4 linked regions of the Homo sapiens genome follow. The protein of the gene in region 4 purifies or fractionates together with the protein of the main gene of each other region. This does not show direct contact. Each region holds a gene or a part of one and is shown on either strand. Other genes may lie near its edges. The genes, in order: DIAPH3, TBC1D23, SLC7A1 and HS2ST1.

Region 1 (5,876 bases), on a different chromosome or scaffold from region 4:
TTAAGAACTGATAGTGAGAGTTCTTTCATTTAAATTCTTTCCTAAACAAAACAATCCTGCCTTGTTGTTAGGGGTGCCGTCAGCTTAAATATGTAAATGTCCTTCACCTTTCTTGATTTTTAAGGTTTGTTTTCAGAAAAACAGGAATTGCAACTGGATGGCAAAATGCACATTTCAGCAATACATACAAATTCACATTTATTCCTACACTGGCTACAGAGAATACTCTGTTCTCCAATGTCTATAAACAGGGCCTGGCTCATAGTTCTAATTAATTAACTTTATTAACTTAGAGCTGAAAGGAGGTGGCAACTTAAGGAAATAAAAAGCAATAGACCTTGCCCGACTAGTTCCATATAACTGCTTTTTAACTGAAGGTAAAAGAACAGTCACTTACTTATTACATGTAATAAAGCAAAATAGATGCTTAGACAGACTGCATAGCACAGTCTATTCTCAGCTTATCCACAGAATGTTTTCAAAAAAAGAGAGACAAAAGAAAGCATTTTTTTTCATTTAGTGCAAGTAGCAAGTTTATTTCCTTTGATATAGAATTAACAGAGTAATGATGCCCAAATGAGGTAATATTACATTTGCTTAGGAAAACTTTCCTTGAAACACTTATTTAGATCTTTGTTAAAGTTATTGATTGTCAGATCAGAGAAATTGCAATCCCAAGTTTATTCATAAAATAAAAAAAGTTGTTACTTTGGAAATTTCAAAATGGCAATTTTATCTCAGAGTCATAATTACAAGGGGAAAAATACTCTCTTAGCCAAGATCAAGAATTTCGGCAGCACTGCAATTCTGTTTACATCCACGTTACACAAAAGCACATGCATTTGGCAAAGAGAGTGCATACATTCTTATTGCATCATTTTTCGTTATGTGCTCAATTGCCTTATGGTCCCCTAGAGGGTCTACTTAACATGAATTCAACAATGATGATAATGGGGTCACCAGTCATTTCCTTACATATATAGCTCTGATGTATTCAATTACATGTTTTTGATGTTGTGCTGGTAGTATATAGATCCCAATTAAGGAGAAACTTGGGCCTATATAAACAATATATATGGAATATACATGGATATGTAAAGACTTGAGGTTGATGACCTGACATCCATTAATGTTAAAAATAGTAAAGTAAAAATTCCAGTGGCTTAGAAAGATGGTATTTTCTTAAGGACACACTGCTGAACACATGGCCACCTACCTGCTCTCTAAAGCAATATGTATAATTTAACCACCAAATAAAGAACTGAGGAATACCAGGAGACAAAAAAAAAAAAAAAAGGATTAAAGCCCGGTACAATCTTGAATAAACCAAAACCTCCAGTACATAGAAAAAGCATTGCAATCATATATTTAGCTTTATTTTTCTAATATATATCATAATTTAAAACTATATAAAGTCACTTACATAAAAGCAATTTTTTCAAGTGTTATAGTTTAGAGCATGGCTTTATATTTGGCTTAATCATTTTTTTTAAAAACCAGTTTAACTTATAAAGCTCGTAATCTTGCCAGCAGGGCTTCAACTTCGGGAACTGATTCATTTTTAGAAAAAGAGCCAAGAAGTTCCGTTTCCTTTTTTCTGTTGCTTTCTACATTACACGCTTCCTTCTTCTCAGCTGCCTTGATCCTCCCAGTAGACGTATGAGTGTCTAGATTATAATTAAGCTCCTTGGCGACTGGAGTCCTTGTTGAGTTGCAATTGATATTGTAGTGTGAACGTGACCCTTCTGTCAACTGCACTTTCTGATTTTCTACAGTAAGGAAAAAAGAAACATAAAACTTATCACCATGATAACCAAGGACTGTGCACGTTATGAAACACATTTAAAATAATTATTCTCAATAAATAAGTAGTCTTCTTAGATAGACTAAACAAAGAAACAGTCAACAGAGTAAGACAGGTTTAAAATAATCACACAGGGGTTTAAGAATAAACTAAAATATAACAGCCAACCGTTTCATTAGCACTAATGCCCATTTCCTTCTTCCTTTATGCCTGACATGCCTGTCACGTGGTTATTATCAGGGCCTGGTCCCATATTTCTTTCAGGTCTCTGTTCAAACACCACCTAAAAAGAGAGGCCTTCCCTAGCCACCCATCTAAAATAGCATTTGCCCTTTGCACTGCTCTATCCTTCCCCGTCATGTTTTCCTTCACAGGGCACATGATGGCTGGACACACAATATATTTGCTCACTTGTCCATTGTCTGTCTTACTAGAATGTGTGCTCCAAGACAGTAGGGACATTATTTTAAATACTGCTGTAACTTCAGGGCCTAAAATGGCCCTGGTGCAAAGTAGGTCCTCAATAAATATTTGTTGGATAAATAAATAATTTCCACACTCTGTGACACAAGATTAAACATTAGCTTGAATAATAATGAGATTAATTTCCTTTTTGAATGAAATCAAGAAGGAAAGTTTCTAATAAGAATTTAAAAAGTCGATTATTTTCCTTTAAAGAAACAATGAACTTGGCAAGCAAATAATTAAAACTTCCTAGCAAACCAGAATGTTATATGTAATTGTCAAGTATATACACATCTATACATACATGCATGTACATATATACATACACACATACATTCTTTTATTGGTAAGTGATGGTAATGATGACTTTTAAAAAACAGACACCCTCAATATTCATGTAACCTTGAATGGGGCTTGAAAATGGCTTCAACAAACCTGACATGACATTTAAAGTTTTTTGGTTATTCTCTGAGAGATGTTCCATTGTCCCAATAGTAATGACTTTGGAGCACAAGCAGTCACTCATGACAGTGTGTTTTATGTGAGTGCTGAAAATTCCAACTGAAAACAGCTTGTACATTAAAAGGTGGCTGCTGAAGATATTTACTGCACTGTCATTTTCTGACCAGAGGCTTCCAGTGATGGATGAGGATTTTACACACTTTCTTGGACAATCTCAACAAATTTTAGAAGTATGATCACCTTTTAGCTGCTGGAAGAAAATAAATACACTTTGTCTTTCACCTTCTATATCAGGTGGGCAACTGTTACTCAAAAATCAAAATCTAATAGAGCAGTGATTTTCTCTTAAAGGAGTGTATGCTCTGTAGCTTATAATGTACATATTGTGTTTGCCGGAAAGAGCACGGTAGATGTGGTATTCCTGCAGTTCCTATGACCACATCCTTTTCTTTTCTAGCTCCCACACCTCTGTCCCAAAGAATGCTTGAAAACTGCATTTGCAGCTAAATGTAGAATGTTGGCCAGCTTACTGCTCCTTCCCCAAAATGTTCCTATCTTTGCTTATTTGATTTCCTGCAAACCACTACATCATGATGGTATCTCCAACAAACCAGTTTATTCTGCTATTGGACAACTCTAGTTAAAAGTCTAATGGCAAAGAAGAGATTAAATTAGCCAAAATATGGGTATAGAATATGAAATGTGTGTGTGCGTGTGTGCGCGTGTCCATGTATGCACTCCAAGAAAGTAGGGACATTGTTTTAAATATTGCTATAGCTTTAGTGCCTAGACCGTCCTTGGTGCAAAGTAGGTGCTCAATAAATATGTGTTGGGTAAAGAAATTATTTCCATACTCTGTGACACAAGATAAACTTTAGTTTGAATACTAATGACATTAATTTCTTTCTTGAACGAAACCAAGAAGGAAAGTTTCTAATCAGAATTTTTAGTCAGTGGTTTTCCTTCAGAGAAATAATGAACTTGGTAGGCAAATTATTAAAACTATATATATACACATATATATATATGTATGTATACACACACACACACACACACACAAAACACATACATACATACCATCTTATGAATAGCCTGTATTTTGTTGCACTTCAAACATTACCACCCTCAGCATATAGATTGAGGGGTAAAAGCAAAAGGAGGTTAAGTCATTTGCTTAGACTTAGTTACTGAGTAAATCGGTGGTAGACGCCAAATGCTGTCTCTAGAGATACTGAGGCTGTCTTCAAGAAATCTGAAAACCCTTTTGCCAAAGGAAAGTGCTAAGTAATTCAAAGCTAAGTTTCATAATAATGGTGTCCTGCACTTATACTTCAAAATGCCTTCTAACACACTGAATTCTCGCAACAGCTTTGTAAAGCAGATAGTACACCTATGTAAACTACCTTAACACAGTATATCCAAGGTCACACATATCCTCCATTTCTTTCCTGGTCTCACTTAGATTCATGACTATGAACTTCAAAAGCATGACCTTTAACCCACTACAATTCCCTAGTCCATTCACTCTTCCATTCTCCCAGACAACTGCTCCACACCTTCTCCACTCTTTGAAACTTCCAATATGTCCTCCCTCTCATTTAACTCACTCATAGAGGTGATCAGAAGAGAGCTCCTGCACGTGCCTCACCCCTTCCCCAACACCTATTATCTGCCTACTGCACACACATACATCCGCCCCTCCTGTTAGGATGAATCAACCTTCCGAGCTCCCCTCTGAGGACAGCCCTCAAGGTGAGTGACGGATGTGACTTTTGCTTGGATGTGACTTTTGCTTGTCTATTCAAGGACATCCCTCTGGCTGCTTTGCCCTCTCTCTGCTGCATTGTAAAGGTTTCTTTCTCCAGGTGCTCATTCCCCTCAGCAGAGAGGCTCTAATAATCATAAATTTATGAGGTGGGGGGAATCTCTGTTTGTCTCCACATCCTGCTCCAGCTATCTAAATTCTTGGCTCCCTTTATAGTAAAATACCTTGAAAGAATTGCCCATACTTACTCTCTTAATTCCTCGCTCCCTATTTTTCTCTTGAACCCACTCCAATCATGCTTTTGACCCTTTACTCTTCTGAAACAGTTCTTGTCAAGGTCGCTAATGAACATGCATGCTGCCAAAAACAAGGATTGCATATCTATTTTGAATGTCTTAGTACTCCTTGATCTATACCAGATCCAAGGATGAAATGCCTAGCATTTCCTGGGTTTTTCTTTTAGCGTTTGGTCTTTGAACTTCTTTGGAGACAAAGGTAAATAATAATGGATGGGCCAAGGCAGGCAAAAGCATTTCTATCCTTTTGAGAAAACTCAAAATAGCTGTGGGCTTGCTTTAGGGACAAAATGATAAGAGAAAAACTAAGATGGTATTTATCTCCTCTGTGGTTTCAGGTGAGGAATCTTTCATGAGAAGTAACAGACAAGACAGTGTAAAAAGGAAAGAGGCCATTCCTGAGACCACTGAAGAAATAAAAAAGAAAAGTGCACAAGAGTTTTTTAAAAGATGTTTATAGCTTTCTTAGAAATTCCTAGATAACAACTCTTCATTCCCAGCCCTCACATTAGCTCTCAGCACCCCAACAGCCCCCATTCTGGTCCTCACCTTCTTTTTGGTTTGTCTCCAGACATGGGAGACCAAAACTGTAGAAATGAGCAAGTCAGATCTTAAACTGCAAAGCAGATAAATGAAGCTGGACAGGAGGAGTTGCCTATCCCACTATAATTAGAGATAGTGCAGGTAGAGGAAGTGCTCAAGCTGGAAGTTCACTTTTTTTTTTTTTTTTTTTGAGACAGTCTTGCTCTGTCGCCCAGGCTGGAGTGCAGTGGCGGGATCTCGGCTCACTGCAAGCTCCACCTCCCGGGTTCACGCCATTGTCTTCCCTCAGCCTCCCGAGTAGCTGGGACTACAGGCGCCCGCCACCACGCCCGGCTAATTTTTTTGCATTTTTAGTAAAGACGGGGTTTCACTGTGTTAGCCAGGATGGTCTCGATCTCCTGACCTCGTGATCCGCCCGCCTTGGCCTCCCAAAAGTGCTGGGATTTCAGGTGTGAGCTACTGCACCCGGCCGGAAGTTCACTTTTTTAAAGCCTGGCAACAAAGCCAGGCTGGGGATAAGCTATCTACCCGCCTCAGCGTC
Region 2 (7,030 bases), on a different chromosome or scaffold from region 4:
ACATAGAAGGAGAGTGTCTGTTTGAGCTATAAAACTAATTATAATTAATTATAAAACTAATTATAAAACGCTATATAGTTATAAACACAACTCTAGATATGCTATTCTTTTTTGCAAATAAATCTGCAAATTTATCAACAGCTCAATTCACGTAAGAACTAAACATCTATTTCGTGTGGGGGGATGAAGGGAGAATGTTCTGAAATACCAGTTTCAACTAAAGAAGTTCACATGGATCTCTTTAAACTGGATAACATGTTTTCATTTGTTTTTAAATATTAGTTTGAATAAGAAAAAAGTGAGATGCTTGTATTTTGAAAATCCTCAATAACCAGCGCAGATACAGTAAGAAATCCAACTAAGAAAGATCTACCATAAAAGGCTATTTTCCCACGTCCATTCCTTTCCTGCCCTCAACCTTGGAAATACACTACACCTTCCAAATACACACCATGGTTAACTGCTGCACTACTAGTAATAAAGACCATATATTAAAAACATCATTGGTCAAATTGACTTATTAGATTTTCATGAAGAAAATTTCATTTTCACAATTCTCCTTTGCTATAAGTTGTATGGAACTAAACCATGTAATTCAATTAGCTGTAAACTACCAGAAACTGTTAAATGCTAAATTCACCCTTTTAAAAGTATTTTATACAATGCCACATTCAGTTGCTCTACTGAAATATGGAAAAAAGATACGGCGATTTACAAAAACTGGTGTCAAGAATGTCAACAATAATTAATTGTAGACAATTAAAACACCACACAAGCTGACAAGTTTTAAAATGACCCTCTGAACATAACATTTAACACAATCATTCAAAAAGCCAAAAGAGCCACCTTGTTGCAGTAAATTGATTTTGTGGGAATCAATGAACAGGGAGGAAGTTGGTTCCTTGTATTTAAAATGAACAGTCCCCTAACAAACTGGGTTTCCTTTACTTACCCCTTGTAGCTGATTCGCTTGAAGGATCTCTGACACGGAGATGGCCAGACAAAGAGCCTGACTCAGATCTGCATCATCATCCTTAATTCCCAACAAAGTACTACCAAAGAGATGGTGATTATCCTGTTTGAAGGGAAATTTTTAAACATTATGAAAAAAAAAATCAAACTTTCTTCCTAAAAATATTCTTATTAAACCATGATAAAAGGTAAAATTATAATACTCTTGAGTTGTGATTTTTTAAAACTTAATACTACATAATCTCAAATTTTATAGGCTAAGAACTACAAAAATGTCACATAAAGTCCCTGTCAGTGTTCATACAAAATGAAAGACTAAGAAAAAAAAAACACATTCTAAATAGCTATTTTCTATACTACCACCTGTAGTTAATATTGAACTTTAAAAATGGTTACTTACAATTTTTCATATCTTAATAAAAACAAATATGTGGCAGAAATCTATTGCATAAATGAGTTAAAATACTGATCCACAGCCTGCTCTAATTCACAACTGCTAGTACAGTTTCACTATGTCTGAAGAATAAAAGGTGCAGCTCTTGAATAAGAAAAAAAATAAGACTTCTTTTTCATTCAGTATTTTAAACTACTATCCTACCATCTGACTTATACAGCATTGTTAGGAACTGAAGAGTTCTATATAAGAAAATTATTAAAATAGTTGAAACTGGTCCCTAGAAATAAGTCTTTTTAAATTAGTTATTTTTGAGGGAAAATGATCTTAAAAGGTTTCCTTTACCTGCTTTCTAAAACACAGTATACTAAACATAACTTAACTTTATCTTGACACTTCAGTGACACGATGAGTACCAACTAGAAATTATTATGGCAGAATGCTTTAAAAAAAAAGGTGCTCTCATGGGCACCTGAAGTCACATACAAACCTGTCTGCTTTATAAACTTGTGCCTCTTCCACTATTAGCTTTTGCTTCTTAGAGTTTCATTTTTCAGGAGTTCACATCACTCATACTTCTAATCTGGTGTCCTTTATTAGGCATCTGTCTGGTCTAAGGATCTAAGTCTTTACGGGGCCTAAATGACCTTTCTTTATAAGACAGCTCAGCATTATTAAGACTATACAAGCCTGAACTCCAGAGAAAAGTGGCAAAACTCTACCTCCTCCACTGGATTACTACTGTAATATAATTTTTTTTTTTTTTTTTTTGAGACAGAGTCTTCACTCTGTCGCCCAGGCTGGAGTGCAGTGGCACAATCTCAGCTCACTGCAAACTCCGCCTCCTGGGTTCACGCCATTCTCCTTCCTCAGCCTCCCGAGTAGCTGGGACTACAGGCGCCCACCACCACGCCCGGCTAATTTTTTGTATTTCTTAGTAAAGATAGGGTTTCACCGTGTTAGCCAGGATGGTCTCGATCTCCCGACCTCGTGATCCACCCACCTTGGCCTCCCAAAGTGCTGGGATTACAGGCGTGAGCCACCACGCCCGGCCCTGTAATATAATTTTTAAAGTCAAGAAAGCACTAATTTAGAAAATATCTCAGTCAATTTTCTTATGATCAGAAATAACAATAATCAGAAGAGAGGTAAGATGCGTTCTACTATCTTTTTAACTTGTCTGTTCCTCCACTAGGGAGGGTATTTACAGAGATGAAAAAAAAAAATCACACAAAACTACAACACATAAAGAAACAGAAAAAATTGACAACCTATTTTAACTAAAGTGAATATAAAGTAATAAAACAATGTACAAAATATGAAATACAACATAGTTGGTCATTTCTGGTCTTATACCTTCCTAAAAGAAGCCGGTGTTTTGCTGCAATAATACTGAGCCAGAGAGAAAAGGTCTTCTATATCTTCTATATTCAGACTGGATGGAGTATTTTCCAAGAACTCTGAAATATTATAGACATAATATTTAGTAGTTTGTGAAAAATGCAAATATTGTTTATGTATCAGAGCCGAAATATCTTCATCATAAATACTATGCAAATGGAGTCTCAACACTGGTGCTTTTACAATGACTTGTGGAAAAGTGGATTTCTCCAAATGAGCTGAAACGGCTAATGTAAATCTCTTGTCAGTGAAGGATAGTGTCAGGCAATCAAATCAAATTCATTAACCTTAATTAGAATTCTATGATTTATTTATTAAACATATATGAAGAAATGCCAAGGCCCCTGAACATAAAAAATGCCTAAGAAATAGTTACTGACTTAAAGAACTTTGTCTTGTGTGAAAAAATAAAAATAAATCATTATAATACAGTAAGATAAACATTGTTATACAGATAGAACAAAGTGCCAGGGAATATAGAGAGGAAGTAACTATCTCTATGTGGGGGATATGGTGGGGAGAATCCAAAAGGAGAACCAAGGTTTCACAATTGAAATATCATATAAACTGAGTATTGAAAGGTAAATTAAGGATGGGTAGGGAGGAACAGAGGAGGGCAATCTATTCGAACAGTGAAACTAATGAAATAGTATATGGAAAGGAATGAAAGAGTGAACAAATATGAAGGAATGAATGAAGATGGCAAAATAAAGGAAAATAGTCTTTAAGGTCTGTACCTGGAGAGTGTTTATATAATCTGAGAGTTGAATGGAGCCTCAGAGCTCTTCTAGACTAATCTCCTAAATTTACGAATGAGGAAACTGAGTAACTTACACAGATAAAGAGACCTGAAATGTTTTCACTACATTAAATGATACTTACTGATAACTTCTTCTTTGCTGTCTGACTCTTGTGTTAAAATAACTTCTCTGTAAAAGGGAATCAAATCAATTTGAGTTAAATATTAACAGAGCACCCTGAGAAAAGAGGAAAAAAAATCTAACCAACCAGATACTTACTTTGCATTAACAAGGATAATTAACATTAAGAAATAAATAAAAAATGGATCTGCTTGTTGTAGATATCCATCCCATATTGCCTGAGTGACTTCAGTGGAACAGTAACATGCAAAAAGACTTCCAAGCTGTAATCAGGAAATGAAATGAGAGACATAAACCACTGGAGGTGACTTGTTCTCTTAAAAGTATTAAAGCAAATGAATAAGAAACATTATATCAAATTATCTGCACCTGATATTTAATGCGTACCTTAATCTTAGTGTATGAAATCCAAAGGCAAAACATGTGAATTCAAGGGACAATGGAGCCACATATTAACTGTGTGACTTAGGACATGTCAACCTCTTTAAAGCTTCCATTTTTACTTCTGTAAAAAAGAGGAATAATGCTACCCATCTTCTACTATTATTGTGAAAAGAATACCTAAAGTAACTAGCACATATCTTTGCCATAGCATAACTAGCATAATTATGGTCTGAGCTCCATAAGAGTAACTAAAATAATTACAATATAATAACAGCACAGTATTTAAATTACAAGGTAATTGTGAGGATCAAACGTGGTAATTTAAGAGCAGCTAATAAAACTTTAATCATAATATAAATATGAATTGCTCCCAAAGCTCACTTGTACATCACTTGAAAGAGATTAGGCCGGGCGCAGTGGCTCACACCTGTAAACCCAACACTTTAGGAGGCCAAGGTGGGTGGATCACCTGAGGTCAGGAGTTTGAGACCAACCTGGCCAACATAGTGAAACCCCGTCTCTACTAAAAATACAAAAATTAGCCAGGCATGATGGCACGTGTCTGTAGTCCCAGCTACTTGGGAGGCTGAGGCAGGAGAATCACTTGAACCTGGGAGGCAGAGGTTGCAGTGAGAAGAGATCTCACCACTGCACTCCAGCCTGGGTGACAGAGTGAGACTCTGTCTCAAAAAAAAAAAAATAAACACAAAAAAAAATAAATAACATTCATATCCTTCAATAAATTTCAGGAGCTAAGAGTTGTTAATTTATAAGCAACTCTACAGCCCAACTGTGTTTTAAGTTGCATGAAGTAATATTTTTAGATCATTCAACTTTCATTAGATACAGAAATAATTCCATCTACAAGTTTAAATTTAAAAAATTTTTAACAGCTAAAGAGAATTAACGGGAACACATATATTTAGTGCACTCTTTGTGCAATACTAAGCTAATACTAAACTATTATCACATACCATTAAAAATATCTCTTACTTAAATTCTCACAACAGGTGTGCAATACTAAGCTAATACTAAACTATTATCACGTATCATTAAAAATATCTCTGATTTAAATTCTCAAAACAGGCCTGGAAAGTAAACACATTTCTCCCCATTTTACAGGTGAGAAAGTAGATTTCAATTACTCCCCATTTTTTTCAGGCGAGGAACTTGGATTACTTTACTTTCTCAAGCTCACAGAGCTAGTGAGTGGTGTTGGGAACAGAAAAAAGCCTGAGATTCCACAGCCCATGTAATTGCCATCACACTTGACCACAAGGCTTTTAAAATACATAATGCTACTAATGTTTTTTGTGGTTGCTTTAAAAATTACGATTACAAACACAGATTAGAAGAGGTACATACAAACAGAATAGCAATACACAGTCATCTTTAAGCTCACTTAGCTCAACGAAAGTTACCACTGCATTGCTCACAGTGGTTTAGGAATTACTTTTTAATTGTTTCATCTCATGATACTTAAAAAACTCTATTTCATCAACATGATACTAGTAGCAAGAGTAAACTATCTGAGGCCAGGCACAGTGGCTCACGCCTGTAATCCCAGCACTTTGGGAGGCCGAGGCGGGTGGATCACGAGGTCAGGAGATCGAGACCATCCTGGCTAACATGGTGAAATCCCATCTCTAATAAAAATACAAAAAATTAGCCGGGTGTGGTGGCGGGCGCCTGCAGTGCCAACTACTCGGGAGGCTGAGGCAGAAGAATGGCGTGAACCCAGGAGGCGGAGCTTGCAGTGAGCCAAGATCATGCCACTGCACTCCAGTCTGGGTGAAAGAGACTCCGTCTCACAAAATAAATAAATAAATAAATAAGTAAACAAACAAACAAACAAACAAACTATCTGGCATATCAGCTGAAGAGAAACCACTCAGTTTAAACCTCCAGCTATCAGCACGAATTCAGAGCTCTGGCATCAGAAATGGCATTTCCTAGGCAGAGAGACCTCTATTATTAAAATGCCTAAGAAAAATAGTTTACTACCTTAACATAAATAGGTAGATTCAGTGGCAACATATGAATCTCAGAGAAGCTACAGTTTTGACAAGACTAGGCTTGGCTCACACCTGTAATCCCTGCACTTTGGGAGGCCTGCGTGAGAGGATTGCTTGAGCCCAGGAGATTGAGACCAGCTCAGGCAATATGGTGAGACCTTGACTCTACAAAAAAATTAAAACATTAGCCAAGTGTGGTGGTGCATGCCTGTGGTCCCAGCTACTCAGGAGGCTGAGGTGGGAGAATCACTTGAGCCCAGGAGGTGGAGCTTGCAGTGAGCCAAGACTGTGCCACTGCACTGCAGCCTGAGAGACCAGAGCAAGACCTCGTCTCAAAAACAAAAACAAAAAACTGACAAGACTGTGGCCAAGAGGGAATTAAAGAACAGGTTACTGAGGTTTGAGATTTAATGAGCCCAGAAGTGAAACCAGTTAGAATTCTCCAATTACCCATTTCCTGATTGTTAACTCATCCTATCATCCTCTGAAGTAGGTACAGTACTATTATTTCCACTTTGCAGATGAGGAATTGAAGCTCAGAGGCTGTCTTAGATCACACAGTTAATAATGGGAAGAAATGGGATTCTTCCTGAAGAAAAGTTAAGTAATACATAATAAAAGGATATGAACATATAGTCTCCTAGGACCCAATCATTGTTTTAGAAAGATCTCAAGTTAACCAGAAGAGCAGCAGTTAACCAGAAGTGTGGTCTGGGGACCTCGTAGAAGTCCCCAGGATTCTTTACAAAGGATCTGTAAGGTCAAAACTATTGTTACACAAATATGTAGAATTTACCTGCCTTTTGCATATATATTCCCTCGAAAATGAACAATAGAATTTTCCAACGCCTACATGATATGTGATATTATCACAGATTGAAATAAGGGCCAGGTGTGGTGGCTCAGGCCTGTAATCCCAGCACTTTGGGAGGCTGAAGTGAGCAGATCACCTGAGGTTAGGAGTTCGAGACCAGCCTGGCCAT
Region 3 (7,030 bases), on a different chromosome or scaffold from region 4:
ACTTTAGTGGCCTCCCTTTCTGTTTTGCCATAATCTGCCTCCTCCCCCACTCCCATACCCATCTACAAAGCAGCCTTGAAAATAACCACCCCTGTGGTTCAGTGTGGGTCATGATCTGTCAATCCAGGCTTAGTACATTTCCAAATGGAATTACCAGAAGGATGGGCATCAAACTGGGAAAATGATTTGGTGGCTTGCTAGCCGTGTTCCTTTTTCTCCCAAGGCATTCGTTCAGATGTGCAGTGTTGGCAGACCCAGGGGATGCCATTTACCTGGCCCACTGGTCGAGATTTGGTCATCCCAGGAACTTGGGCTTCAGAAAAGATGTTTCTGGGCTTTGGACCAGATTCTGGCTGGTCTGTGGTTTGCCCCTCCTGCCACACCCAGTGGCTTTCATTGGGCTTTTTTCCTCTAGTTATTGTCAGGAACAGTGGGGAATGGCAGGTATTGCATTTGGTGAACACACTGGATAACTGGAATCAGAGCCGTGTGACTGAGGGAAGAGGCCTTCACAGCTTCAATGCAGAATGGGATGATTATCTGCCCTGAAACGAAGGATGCTTCTTTGAGGGGAGTTGGGACCAATACTGGGAACAGCACCGCTCCTGGCTTCTCTGGCTTTGCTTCTCTCTGAAGTAATTTAGACTTCGTGAACCTTACATACTGGCTCCATCTGTATATTGGGAGAGCCTGTCCCTCTCAGCCTCACAGTAGTGAAGTTAGGAAGCATGGAGTCCACAGTGTTCTTTGAAAGAATCAAGGCACCAAGTCCATGCATTTACATTTCTCTCTTGAGATCAGTCCTTTTGTTAGCAGCCTGCAATTCTGACCACGGCAACCAAAAATTTCTGACCGTGGCAACCAAAAATCAAGCGCGAGGAAACCTGGGGGTTTATTTGGAGGTGGGAGAGGATGTCCCTTCTTCTGGTAGGACTATGTCTGGCTACATTGTCTTTCCATTTTTTTCTGATTGTCCCCTTGCCCCCCTCCCTTTTCTGGGGGCACAGAGGGCATGGCAATTTTGTTTCCTAGCTTTCCATATTCCTACTGCAGTGCTTTCTTCAGAATACTTGTTCAGATCGGATTCTTGGCTGTGAGGGCAACCAGCTGCTTTCCTGTTTCTTTAAAAGTGGATCCCACACTGCCGTGTCCTGCACAGTGAGTTCTGCATTGTAGAAACCATCTAGCAGTGGTGACTCAGGGAGTGGCCTCTGCTCGGTATGGGGCCTCTGCAACATGAGGTTATGGGGCTTCTACGCTGTGGGGTCAAAGGAGACATCATGATCCCTACTGGCAGAAAGAGCAGAGCCCCAGAGTGGGTTCCACTTACGGGGTCAGTGTCTTTTCTGAGATATTCCTCAGAACCACATTTAAATTCTTTTTCATATTGTTTGCATAATAATTGCCTTCTAGTGCCTACTTTATAGGACTGAGAGGATTTAAATGAGATAATCCATGTTATGGATTTAACACAGCCTCTGGCACAAGTCTAAATGTTGCATGTAAGTGTTAACTATTATACTGGAAAGAAGGCTCAGTTCCTTGATTTAGGTGTGGGAGAAAAATATATATATATTTTGAGATAGGGTCACACTCTGTCACCCAGGCTGGAGTGCAGTGGTGCAGTCACAGCTTGTATTAGCCTCCACCTCCTGGGATCAAGCGATCCTCCCACCTCAGCCTCTGAGGTACCTGGAACCATAGGTGTGTACCACCACACCCGGCTAATTTTTATTTTTTATTTTTTGGTAGAGAAGGGATCTCATTATGTTGCCCAGGCTGGTCTCAAACTCCTGGCCTCAAGTGATCCACCTGCCTCGCCTCCCTAAAGTGCTAGGTTTATGGTCGTGAGCCACTTAGCCTAGCCCTGAGAAAAATAATTTTTACAACAACTTAATTTCGCTCTCTCATTTTACCAAGGCATTAAAATGTTGTGCTCTTTCCTTGGGTGGGTTTCTAAATTAGAAGGGGCAGACATAGTCCCAGGGTGCTGGAGGAGGGATGCGGGCCTCTGAGGCATCTGCTGACAGGTTCACCATCCCATCTGGTCCCAGGTCTGAGGGAAGGAACAATAGTCTCTGGGCTGTTTTGGCTCTGACTGCCTGGATGGACTTGAAGCCATCTCTCTTTGGAATCCTGATGTCTCCCTGAGCATGGGGTGCAGGTTTGCTTAGGACTCAGACCCATGCACCTTGCGCTCAGTGACTTCTAGGACTCCTGGGAAACAGAGCTCTCAGCCCCTTTCTTAGTGTTTGCTGTGTGTGGGTATGTGTATGTTTATGTGTATGTGTATGTGTATGTGTATATGTATGTGTGTGTGTTTGGTGGGGGGCAGGACGGGAGTGACTGCCCTGGCTACAGTCATCCCAAACATGTTGTTCAAATTACTCCGAAGCCCTTGGGTTTTAGAAAAAGCAAAGCTGAAAAGCTGAAACTCTGGGCCGTGTTTCCCACCTCACTCATCCCGTGCTTGGGTCTGTAGGATAGGATGTCTCCATACAGCACAGGGGTGGTGGGCGACACCCACCTGGGGGCAGCAGTGAGAAGGCAGGGGCTCATCCTCCCCACAAAGTGGCTGGAGTTGATCTGTTATGGACGTGTTCGAAGTGTCCTTCTCTGCATCTTGTCTGCTTACTGAGTGCCATTAGCCAAAGTCTGTTAGGCCAAGTAGGAAGGAAGGGAGGGGCCCTGGGGCTAGGTAAGATCAATCATTGCAAGCACTTATTTAGTGCTCACCATGTACTCTGCGCTTTATCTATGTTTCATTTGAATCTTCCTAACCACCCAGTGGGATCGGCCCTTCTGGTGTGACTGATGGGGAGAGGGGAAGGCAGGTGGCCCACGGGCACACAGGTAGGCAGTCAGTGGCAGAGTGAAGATTGGAACCCAGATGTCTGCCTGTACCTGGACTCCAGCCTGTCTCGGGATAGGCCTGGCCTGGCCTGCCCTGTGTACACTGAGTGGGAGGCAGACAGATCTGAAGCCCATCTGCCTGCGTCCCTCTGTTTCTGGCTGAGTCCAGGTGGTGCTGGCACCGGTCACCCGCCCCAACGCTGGAGGGCACCCTGCCTCCCCTCTCTTTGCCCTGATTTCCCTCTGCTGTCTCTGAAAGTGGGTCTTCCCCCTCCCAAGTCCAGGCACCTGGCACAGCTGGAGCCCTGGGGTCCTTGGGGCAGCTGCGCTGGGACGTGGCCAGTGTCAGGAGCCGGTGTGTGTGACGGAGGCTGGGCTGCATTCTTTCTGGGTCAGTAGTTTGGCATTTACATCACCAGCCTTTGGCTGGATGCAATGCCTCCTGCCCAGACCACAATGGAGCCTTGTTTGATTTATCACCATCCAGCCACGCCCACACTCCACCTCCATCTCCACCTGGGGAGACCCCTTTGCAGGGGGTCTTGTGGAAATCAGAGACTGTTCGTAGGGGAAAGTCAGCTTCCTTTTCTGTGTTCCATCCTTCTTAAGGCCAGTGGCCGCTGTCATCCTGCCCTTGGCTTGGCTTTGCTGATTTCTACAATATCTTGCGGAGGTGCCCCCTTTCCTTAGAGGATGCATCTTTAACACTCTCAGAGAGGCTGGGGCAGGAGCTGTCCACACCAGGGCCTGCAGCAAGGGCCCGTCTTCCCCAAAGTGACTTGGGAGAGTCTTCCTGGCCCGCAGCTTTTCCACAGTGTCAGGGACACCTCCTGCCCTCCCTTGGGATGAGGCCTGGTCTAGGAGCTGGGGGCGTTAGGGTGCAGTTTCTGGGACCCAGTGAAGGCCCCTGGGAAAGACTGGCAGTTAGAGTTAGGAGAACTCTTCCCTCATCCCTTTTGCCCTTCTCCTTTTCCCCTTTTCTTTTTCAGCAGTTTTTGGATAACATTTCAAACTTAAAGAAAAGTTGCAGAGGCCAGGCATGGTGGCTCACGCCTGTAATCCCAGCACTTTGGGAGGCTGAGGCAAACAGATCACTTGAGGCCAGGAGTTTGAGACCAGCCCTGGCCAACATGGTGAAACTCATGTCTACGAAAAATACAAAAGTTAGCCTGGTGTTGGTGGCGCATGCCTATAGTTGCAGCTACTCGGGAGGCTGAGACACAGGAATCACTTGAACCCGGGAGGCGGAGGTTGCAGGGAGCCGAGATCACACCACTGCACTCCAGCCTGGGTAACAGAGTGAGATACTGTCTCAAAAAAAAAAAAAGAAAGAAAAGAAAAGAAAATTTGCAGGAGTGCAAGGAACTCCTGGGTACCGTCTCTCAGATGCACAGGTGGGTTATGTTTTGCCTCCTTCTATTCTCTCTCCACCCCACACAAACTCACATGCACACAGACACATACATTTTTTTCTGAACCATTTGAGAGTCAGCTGAAGACGTCATGCCATTTTATTTGCCCTCTATACTTCAGTGTATATTTCCTAAGAACAAGGCTCTTCTCTCACATAACCATGGTACAATAGCAAAGTCAGGAAATTTAACATTAATACAACCCTGCGATCTAGGCCACAGTCCATATTTGACTTGCAGTCGTCCACATAATGTCCTTTATAGCTAAGTATTTTTGGGGAAGGAGTTTTGCAGTGTGGGGGTTCTTTCAAAAGAGGTGTGATTTTCTACCTCATAAGCCTTTTTAAGAAAAAGTGTTTCTAAAAGTTAGAATGTTTGTTGTGGAAAATTTGGAAACTACAGAAAATTAAAAGAAGGAGAAAATAAAACCCATTCATAATTCCAGCTCAGAGGCTGAGTGATCGACCAGAAAGGTGGTGGAAAGACTTTCTCAGCTCCTTCAGCTCTGGTGACCTGGCCACACAGACTCGTGATCCCTCCACCACCCACACACTAGTCAGGAGCCCCGCAGCCAAGTCCTGGGGCTGTGGGAGGAGCCGGCCCCTGTCTGGAGCTGACGGTCTTTCATGCTCCTGCCCACCCCTTGGGCAGGTGCCCACCGAGCAGGCAGACTTAACCAGCCTTGGTGGTGCCTTTGTGGTGCATATCCTCCAGGTGGGGAAGGGTGGAGATCGTTAATAAATATCCAGAACTTGTTTGAGACTTGAAAAGAAATGTTGCAGGCCCACTCTTGTCTGGTCTATACCCCTTGCTTCCTGGACTTGGCAGAGGTTAAGGATGGGGCCTGGAGCGTGATTGAGGGAAACAGCACTGGCCCCATATCAGTGAGCTCTTGGGTGCTTCATGTGGTTGTTAGACTTGCCTTTTAATGAGCCTCTTGGCCCCTACCAGTGGGCTACGGAAGAAATAAAATGTGAAATTTTACCATGTGAAGTTTGCTGTTTGCCAATGACTGTGCTTCTCAAAAGTTCCTAGGGAAAGGTTTTAAAACTGGTGCAGGTAGTGAAGTTTGGATCTCGCTTCCCTGCTTTGTCCGCTTAGGTGGTCCATTCGCCATAACAGCTGGAACTGAGAGTGGCTCTCCCCTTTCCTGGCCCAGAACGGGTCTTTGCTAAGCGAGTCTGGTTTCTGGAAGGATTTTGTTCTTAGAAGCTACTACGTCATTGTCCTCAGCTCCCCATCATTTGTACCTCAGTTTCCCTGAGCTGTAAGTCTATGTTATGTGTGAAAATGGGCCTCTGAAGGTCATGATCAAAAGCCTTGAGTATTTTTCCATGTGTTTGTTTTTTCTACTCCGGCCCCAGACCCTCTCCTTGAAGGAGCTGGCCTTGAGAGTGACTTCGGTGGGCAGCCGCCCAGACTCCACACACCCTGCTGAGTCCACGTAACGCCCAACCTGGACGGGCCAGAGCTGAAGGGCTACTCTTCAAAGAAACCCTTTGAAGTGCAAACATTTCCTTTCCTGAAAAGAAGGGAAATTGAAATGAAAACGTATTGTTCTGTGCAGACAATGTTCTCTTCGATCAAAGAGGGAGTGGGGCTTATAAAGGGAGATGCACAAATTAGAGCTTGATGTGGCCAGTGGTGTGGATGTGAATATTCATCCCTGTGGAGGAAAATAGTGGGGTCTCTGAGATTTGTAAGATTGTATTTTCCTTTTTTTTCTTCTTTTTCCTTAAGGCTCTGAATCTAGGTCTAACGTTCTATTTAATGATGTCTCTCCTTTGTGTTTTTATCTTGTGGTAAGCATTTGGGAGTGTCTTTCAGTAAATCATGATACCATTTCCATGTTAGAATACTATGTAGCCAGTAAGAATGGCGTTTTCAAAGAACATTTGATTTTGTGGGAGAAACTTTAATGTTAAAAGTGAAACCATCTGGGTGCAATTTCCCATGTTCCGTGTTAGCTTAATGAGATATATGTATTTGCACAGAAAGAAAAGACTGGAAAAATTGGACTTTGTTTTTCTCACTGCAGTGTTTGTGGCACCTAAAATAGTGCTCAAGAAATATTTATTGAATGACTATTCTTATAATTAGTAAAACTGTATTTAAAGGAGGAATGTCTTTGAGCTAATGTTTTGGCAGGTGGATGGGACAATATATTATTTTAAGTTTCTGTTGTAATTTTGCCCTAGCAGCTCAGTTCTGGTAGATTTTGTTCTTTGGCACACATACATACCCCATTTTGCACTTTGGTACAAATTATACTGTGAATGGGTGACTTTGACATTTATATTTTTGGAAGAATCCAGTTCTACTGAAATCAGAGTATCAGATGTTGTCTTTTTCCTAATGTTCCCAGATGGGGTAGAATTACAGCTTCTTCTTACTTACTCTGTAACTAAGGAACCTTTGGGCCAGTTTGTCCTGTCCTGTGGTTGAGAATTTTTGCCTGGTTTGCCCAGGGTTTCTCATCCTTGAGCATCCAAGGCTACCAAGATACACTGTTCATATGTCGTCCTGGTTTCTAATGGATAGTTATCTAAAAATGCAGCTTCCCATTCTTACCTGCACTGTAGGTTAGCTTGGAAGATGTCCATCCCTGGTCTCAGTGGTCTTGTTCAGGGAGGGTGACTGTCACAGCTGTCCTTTCCTCTCTGGTGAGATTGTTTCATTCCTCCTTCAGGCACTTGGGATTCAGAGCCCTGTTGGCTGCCTCTTCTGTACTGTCAGCTTAGCACAGGATTCTGGAAGCCCGGTGC
Region 4 (7,030 bases):
TTTATATTATTGTGAGGAAAGGGTGCTAAGATGATTGTTCTGTCATTCTTTTAGTTTTTCTTTAGTTTATAAATGTTTCTTTTGTTTATAAATGTTTTCTCATAAGAAGTGTTCCCTCATGCCCTCCCATAACCTTTAAGGCAATCTACCTAAAATGCTTACAGTATGGTGAAGCCTTATTCAGAAATATTTACTTAAACCATAGGTATAGAATAGCTACCATTTCTGAATAATAATGTAAAATGAAAACAGAAACAGCTTTCAAATTTGAAGAGAAAAGTTTCCCTGACCCTAGTCAGCTAACAAAGCCTATTTCTAACAGTGAACTTCCTGAACTCAAGCAGCTGCTCATGAAGCTTTAAGAGTTCACAGGCATTTCATATTTCAATAGTTGTTGAAACATGGAAGATAAAACACTGAGAGGATATTTATCAAACACAAATTTATATCAAGATTAACTTTTTCAACCAGCTTACAAGCAGACTTTTCCCTTTCTTTGTTAAAAAATGAATGGTATGAAACTATATGTTAAAGATGTTTCTATAATACCTTACATTTACATAGCGCTTTACAATTTTCAAAGTGCTTTCACATGCCATCTCATTTAATCCTCACAACAGCCCTGTGAGGTAGGTACAGCAGGTATTATTATCCTCATTTCAAGATGAGGAAATTGAGGCAAAGAGAGGTTAAGTGACTTGCCCAAGATCACACAGCTGTAAGTGCTAGAGCTAGGACCTGAAATCAAGTTTTTTGACTCCTTGTCCAGTACTCATTCCACTGTAATTACTGCCTCAAGTTATGAATAATGAACTGTGTATCAAAATTGAAAGCTTACTGAAGTTCATTTCAGTGATGTCTTAACAGTAAAGTTAAATGAGAAATACAAGAACAGTAGGTCTGATGGTTTTACTTGACATAAAATTGGTGCAAAACCACTTTTGTCTAATTACTTGTAACCTTTTGGTCCAAATACATAAAATATGCAATATTTACAGCATTTTCCTTGTTTTGTAAATGCAATGCTTTAAAACACATTATAAAGCACCTTAGTAAAAATAGTCTACAGGTAAAAGTACAGAAGAAGTAGGAAAATCCTACCCATACCACAGCTCACTAATGGAGTCATAATACGGAGTCACCGATATCTCAGTTTACAGCTTTACAAATAACCCATGGAGAAACAAATACTAAACTTACTTTTTTGATATTAATGTGTGAAAATCTTAACTAAAACTTCAGACAATCTCAATATTCTTTGAAGTATCTTCCCAGTATTAGATATTGAGGAGGCAGGAATGAGAAATACTGCTTTGATGCTTTATCTTTTTACCATATTAGTCATGATTTAAATTGATTTTTAACACTAATCACCATTTAAAAAATTAAAACCACCTACATAAATATGGGCAAATCCAACTACAGCAGAAACATTTCTTAGCAAATATGATTAAACATTCCAATAAATTTCATGAGACATGACTCACAAAAACAAAGTACACACTGCCAAACAGTTATTAACACAATTCAGTAGAGGTGTATAACCCAAACCCTCAGTGAAGGCAGAAGAGGCAAATGGACTCATCTTAATTCATGGTTAGTTGAAAAAATGCTTTATCAAAAACAAGAGTATCAGAACCTTTTCTGAAATTGTATTTAGCCTTTTGATTAGACCTGCCATAAGTTCATTTTAGGTGATGTATATTTTCTCCCAGGCAGGAGGTTATAACTTTCACCAACGTTTAGCCAGGAAAAATAAAAATGCCTGAAACTTAGAACACTGACAATGCCAGCCAGTATCTACTTCCTTGACGTTACTGTCTGTTTCCTAATTTGGCTCAATACAAATTGTCATATACACCTACTGTCAGCAATCCAGACTGTGGAGCTGAGAACAAAGGTGAAGACAGGGTCAAATTTTAGTTCAAGAATCCAATAGTCACACCTTATACTCAGTTCGACTTAGGGTAAATCTTTTCATAGAAAAAGTTTTGTGCGAGGATGTAGAGGTCTCCATCTTTTTCTCGAACGGCATGGGCTCTGATGAATTGGAACTGCTCTAGTGCAAATTCATAGAACTCATTCTCCATTTTCCAAATATCAGATTGCTGTAGTTTTGCAATGGTTTGTTTAGTGGGGAGTTTCTTCTCTGTGGTTTTCCTAAGATGAGATTTCTTTCCTACTTACAAAGGGGGAAAAAAAGGAAAGGTAAATAATTCTTGGAGAACACACAAAAGATCAATGCCTCTTTATTTGAAGAGGTGGTTAATATGACACATTAAGAACAGGTAACATAATTGTCTTATATAATTCAGGTAAAAACGGAGCCTTGATCAAACTAGAGCCATGATTCAGTCCTTTAGAATGTTAATCCTTAACCTAGTAAAGACTTAATGAAATGTCAAATAGTCAATGTAAGGATTGGCACACAGTAAAGTGTAGGCTGTCACCTCACACACTATATTCTCAAGTGCTTGGTGCTCTGAGACTAGTTTATTTTTGATAAAATACCTATTGTCAAACTGTATTCTATTTTCTCATAATCTGTATTCTCTAAAATTATGTGTTAGAAGCTAGGGCATATGCATCCTCAAGGAGAAGAGTTCCTATGACTGCATCTTATCAAGCAATAGCAAAAAACGAAACAAAACAAAAACACAATTAGCTTATCACTTTCAGACACATGATAATACGGCTGAGGCTGCTAAAACATGGCTTAGGCATACTTCAGTTCCCCTATCACACCTCTACTTCAAAATGGTAGTAGGCAGGACTTATACACAGGCCTAATGTTTGATATCTGGCATTATTGAATACCATACATTTCTATGGCTGGTTCTGTACTTTGTATCATTCCACTATTTCTACAGTGCCTTCTAATTTTCACCTAATTCACAGTTACTCAATTGAAAATAGTGAGCAGAAACCGACAAGATACCTGCCTTTCTGGAGCTATCTGTTGTGTTTCACTGAAGAAACTTCAAATCACATATTTACAAGTTGCAAACCAAAAAACCAAACCAAAGAAAGCTTTAAAAAGAAACCCTTCCTTTATATACCTGTGCGATAGAGTTCAGTAGCACCCCTGAAAAACCGGGGCAATGCTGCCTCCAATAACATGATAAAATCTTCAAGTTCTTCAGTAACTCCCACCAGAAAATATTCATTAATTAGGTTATACTTGGCTTGATCCATAGCCCACCTGCTTCCCACATTCCTGAAACCAAAGAAAAGGAATTAAAACCTGGTTGTGAAATCTGCTGAGTGTTTCTGGTGCCTTTGACACCATATATTACAGAGAAAATAGATAAACACATGTATATCCAAAGCCTCAATGCCTCTTTATTACCATCCTGTGGGAGGCACACCTGTTTCCAATTTCATTTGCTTCCATCTCCAGTTTCTGCTCAACTATGAGTGCTAATTCAGAGTTTACCAGAGGACTCTTAACATGAGCAATTTAGTTTAAGGGCACTTTAAAAATGTATATGGATATAAGAAACATACACCCCTCCCATATGATTTAGTGTGTGTTTTAACTTTTTTAAACTACTCTAAATTCTGTTAAGAGCTCTCTAGCAAAGTGTAAACAATTTGTGTTTACTGCTTATTGTGTGAGTTTCGGGTTTTTGTGAGCTAAGTGTTTTCTGAAATTTCTGAGGAACAGAAAATAGATAATGGCTCTGCTAAGAATCTTTTATTTTTATTTTAATTTACATTGTCAGCTAATGCTATTAACAGAGATTTGATCCAAAATAAACTATACTTTTGGGTTCTTTTTAGCACAAATATTCCTTAATCCAAATTCTAGCTCTGCATTTAAGTAGCAGTATGATCTTGAGCTGGTGGCTTCACCTTTCTCAATTTTGTTTTCTCAAACTATTAAAAAAAACAAAGAGGGGGAGGGGAACAGTGATTAATTGGTTTCTAAGAACCCTCCCAGTTCTGTGAATCTATGAAACATACTAAAGAAATACAATTAACTTCTCAAAAATGCCCAATAGAGCAAGTCTTTATTGTTCTAAGGCAGGGATTGGCAAACTTTTTATATAAAAGGCCAGAGGATAAATATTTTAGGTTTTGCAGACTACATAGTGATATGGTTTGGATATTTGTTCCCTCTAACTCTCATTCTGAAATGTGATTCCCAGTGTTGGAGGCTGGGCTTGGTGGGAGGTAACTGGATCATGGGAGCAGGTCCCTTGTGAATGGTTTAGCACCATCCCCTTGGTGATGACTGAGTTCTTGGCTCAGTTAGTTCATTAGAGATCTAGTTATTTAAAAGACTGGGGGCCTGGTGCGGTGGCTCACACCTGTAATCCCAGCACTTTGGGAGGCCAAGGTGGGCGGGTCACCTCAGGTTGGGAGTTCAAGACCAGCCCGACCAACATGGAGAAACCCCATCTCTACTAAAAATACAAAATCAGCTGGGCATGGTGGTGCATGCCTATATTCCCAGCTACTCAGGAGGCTGAGGCAGGAGAATTGCTTGAACCTGGGAGGTGGAGGTTTGCGGTGAGCCGAGATCACACCATTGCACTCCAGCCTGGGCGACAAGAGCAAAACTTTGTCTCAAAAATAATAATAATAATAATAATAAACGACTGGGTCCTCCCCCTTCACTCTCTTTCTCCCACTCTTGCCATATGATGTGCCTGCTCGCACTTCACTTTCTGCCATGATTGTAAGCTTCCTGAGGCCTGCATCATAAGCCAAACAGATGTTGGTGCCATGCTTGCACAGCCTGCAGAACCATGAGCCAAGTAAACCTTTTTTCATTATAAATTACCATCTCAGGTATTCCTTCACAGTAATGTAAGAATGGCCTAATAGAGAAAATTGGTACTAAGGAGTTGGGTGTTGCTATAAAGATACCTGAAAATGGGAAAGTGGCTTTGGAACTGGGTAATGGGCAGCGGTTGGAAGAATTTGAAGGGCTCAGAAGAAGACAGGAAGAAGAGGGAAACTTTGAAATTTCTTAAGTCGAGACTGGTTTAATGATTGTGATAAAAATGCTGACAGAAATATGGACAGAAGTCCAGGCTGATGAGGTCTCAGAGGGAAATGAAGAAGTTACTGAGAACTGGAGTAAAGGTCACCTGTGTTATGCCTTAGCAAAGAACTTGGCTATGTGGTGTCCAAGTTCTAGAGATCTATGGAAGTTTGAACTTAGAGTGATGACTGGTCGGGTGCGGTGGCTCACACCTGTAATCCCAGCACTTTGGGAGGCCGAGACAGGCGGATTACCTGAGGTCTGGAGTTCGAGACCAGCCTGGCCAACATAGCGAAACCCCATCTTTACTAAAAATACAAAAATTAGCTGGGCATGGTGGCACACGCCTGTAATCCCAGCTACTCAGGAGGCTGAGGCAGGAGAATTGCCTGAGCCCGGGAGGCGGAGGTTGCAGTGAACCGAGATCGTGCCACTGCACTCCAGCCTGGCTGACAGAGTGAGACTGCCTCAAAAAAAAAAAAAAAAAAAAAAAAAAAAACAAAAAACACACACACACACACAAAAGTGATGACTTAGGACATCTGGCAGAATAAATTTCTAAGCAGCAAAGCATTTAAGATGTGGCCTGGCTGTGTCTAAGAGGCTACAATCAAATGCAAGAGCAAAGGAATGACTTAAAGTTGGAACTTACATTTTAAAGGGAGGCAGAGCATAAACATTTGGAAAATTCACAGCCTGGCCATGTGGTAGAGAAGGAAAGCCCCCTCTTTTTGTTGTTTTTTGTTTTAAAGACAGGGTCTTGCTCTGTTACCCAGGCTGGATCTTGGCTCACTGCAGCCTTAACCTCCTGGACTCATGTGTTCTTCCTACCTTAGCCTCCCAAGTAGCTGGGACTATGGGCATATGCCACCACACCTGGCTAACTTTATGTTTTGTAGAGATGAGGTTGCCCAGGCTAGTCTCAAATTTCTGGGCTCAAGTGATCCTCCCACTTTGGTCTTCCAAAGTGCTGGAATTACAGGCATGAGCAACCACTCCCACTGGAAAGCCTATTTTCCAGGGAATAGGGCAGGGAATAGGGAAGGAATTTAATAACACTGTGGAGCAATCACTTATTAAGGAGGTTAGCATGACTAAAAGGGAGCCAACTGCTAATATCCAAGACAATGGGAAAAAGGCCTCAAAGGCATTTCAGAGATCTTCCAGGCTGCCCCTCCCATCACAGGCCCAGAAGCCTTGGGGGGAAGAATGATTTAAGGGGGCAGGCCCAGGGTCCTGCTGCCCTGAGAAGCCTTGGGACATTGCTCCCCACATCCCGGCCACTCCAGTTCCAGCCTCAGCTCAAAGGAGTCCAGGTATAGCTTGGGCCACCACTCTGGGGGAGCATAAACTGTAAACATTGGTGGTTTCCAGGTGGTGTTAAGTCTGCAGATGCTCAGAATGCAAGCATGAAGGAGCTTGCATTCCACCTAGATTGCAGATTCCACCTAGATTTCAGAACTGGGTTGCACTGCAGCCCTCACCCCACACAAAGACTCAAACAGGGAACTGCCTAGTGGAGCTGTGGGAAGGTGATTATGCCCTCCAGACCCCAGAATGGTTGGCTCACCATCGGCTTGCACGCTTTGCCTGGAAAAACTACAGGTACACTCAATTCCAACCCATGAGAGCAGCCATGTGGGCTGTACCCTGCAAAGCCATGGGGGCAGGGCTGCTCAAGGCCTTGGGAGCCCACCCCTTGCACCAGGATGCAGGAGATGAAGTCAAGGATTATGTTGGAGCTTTAAGATTTAATGACTGCCCTGCTGGGTTTTAGACTTGTGTGGGGCCTACTGCGCCTTTCTTTTGGCCAATTTCTCCCTTTTGGAAGGGAAATGTTTATCCAATGCCTATACCACCATTGTTACTGGGAATAAATAACTTGTTTTTTATCTCACAGGCTCATAGGTAGAAGGAACTCATCTCCAGATGAGATTTTGGACTTGGGACTTTTGAGTTAATGCTGGAATAAGACTTTGGGACTACTGTGAAGGGATGAATATATTTTGAAATATAAGAAAGACATGAGATTTGGTG

Evidence for each region.
Region 1: the proteins of HS2ST1 (region 4) and DIAPH3 purify together in Homo sapiens (affinity purification with mass spectrometry; 4 studies listed by BioGRID and IntAct, with this or other methods). This does not show direct contact.
Region 2: the proteins of HS2ST1 (region 4) and TBC1D23 purify together in Homo sapiens (affinity purification with mass spectrometry; 3 studies listed by BioGRID and IntAct, with this or other methods). This does not show direct contact.
Region 3: the proteins of HS2ST1 (region 4) and SLC7A1 purify together in Homo sapiens (co-immunoprecipitation; 4 studies listed by BioGRID and IntAct, with this or other methods). This does not show direct contact.

Annotation. Positions count from the first base shown.
Region 1 is NC_000013.11:59,665,078-59,670,953, forward strand, and holds the end of DIAPH3 (protein diaphanous homolog 3), read right to left. Parts: intron 1,770-5,876; coding exon 1,507-1,769; 3' UTR 506-1,506; downstream 1-505. UniProt on the Homo sapiens protein: Actin nucleation and elongation factor required for the assembly of F-actin structures, such as actin cables and stress fibers. Required for cytokinesis, stress fiber formation and transcriptional activation of the serum response factor.
Region 2 is NC_000003.12:100,291,968-100,298,997, reverse strand, and holds part of TBC1D23 (TBC1 domain family member 23), read right to left. Parts: intron 4,154-7,030; exon of another isoform or gene 4,072-4,153; coding exon of another isoform or gene 4,036-4,071; intron 3,912-4,035; coding exon 3,787-3,911; intron 3,697-3,786; coding exon 3,650-3,696; intron 2,827-3,649; coding exon 2,723-2,826; intron 1,076-2,722; coding exon 953-1,075; intron 1-952. UniProt on the Homo sapiens protein: Putative Rab GTPase-activating protein which plays a role in vesicular trafficking. Involved in endosome-to-Golgi trafficking.
Region 3 is NC_000013.11:29,585,659-29,592,688, reverse strand, and holds part of SLC7A1 (high affinity cationic amino acid transporter 1), read left to right. Parts: intron 1-5,896; exon of another isoform or gene 5,897-5,964; intron 5,965-7,030. UniProt on the Homo sapiens protein: High-affinity, low capacity permease involved in the transport of the cationic amino acids (arginine, lysine and ornithine) in non-hepatic tissues.
Region 4 is NC_000001.11:87,099,619-87,106,648, reverse strand, and holds part of HS2ST1 (heparan sulfate 2-O-sulfotransferase 1), read right to left. Parts: intron 3,218-7,030; coding exon 3,060-3,217; intron 2,180-3,059; coding exon 1,953-2,179; 3' UTR 1-1,952. UniProt on the Homo sapiens protein: Catalyzes the transfer of a sulfo group from 3'-phospho-5'-adenylyl sulfate (PAPS) to the 2-OH position of iduronic acid (IdoA) or glucuronic acid (GlcA) within the heparan sulfate (HS) chain and participates in HS biosynthesis.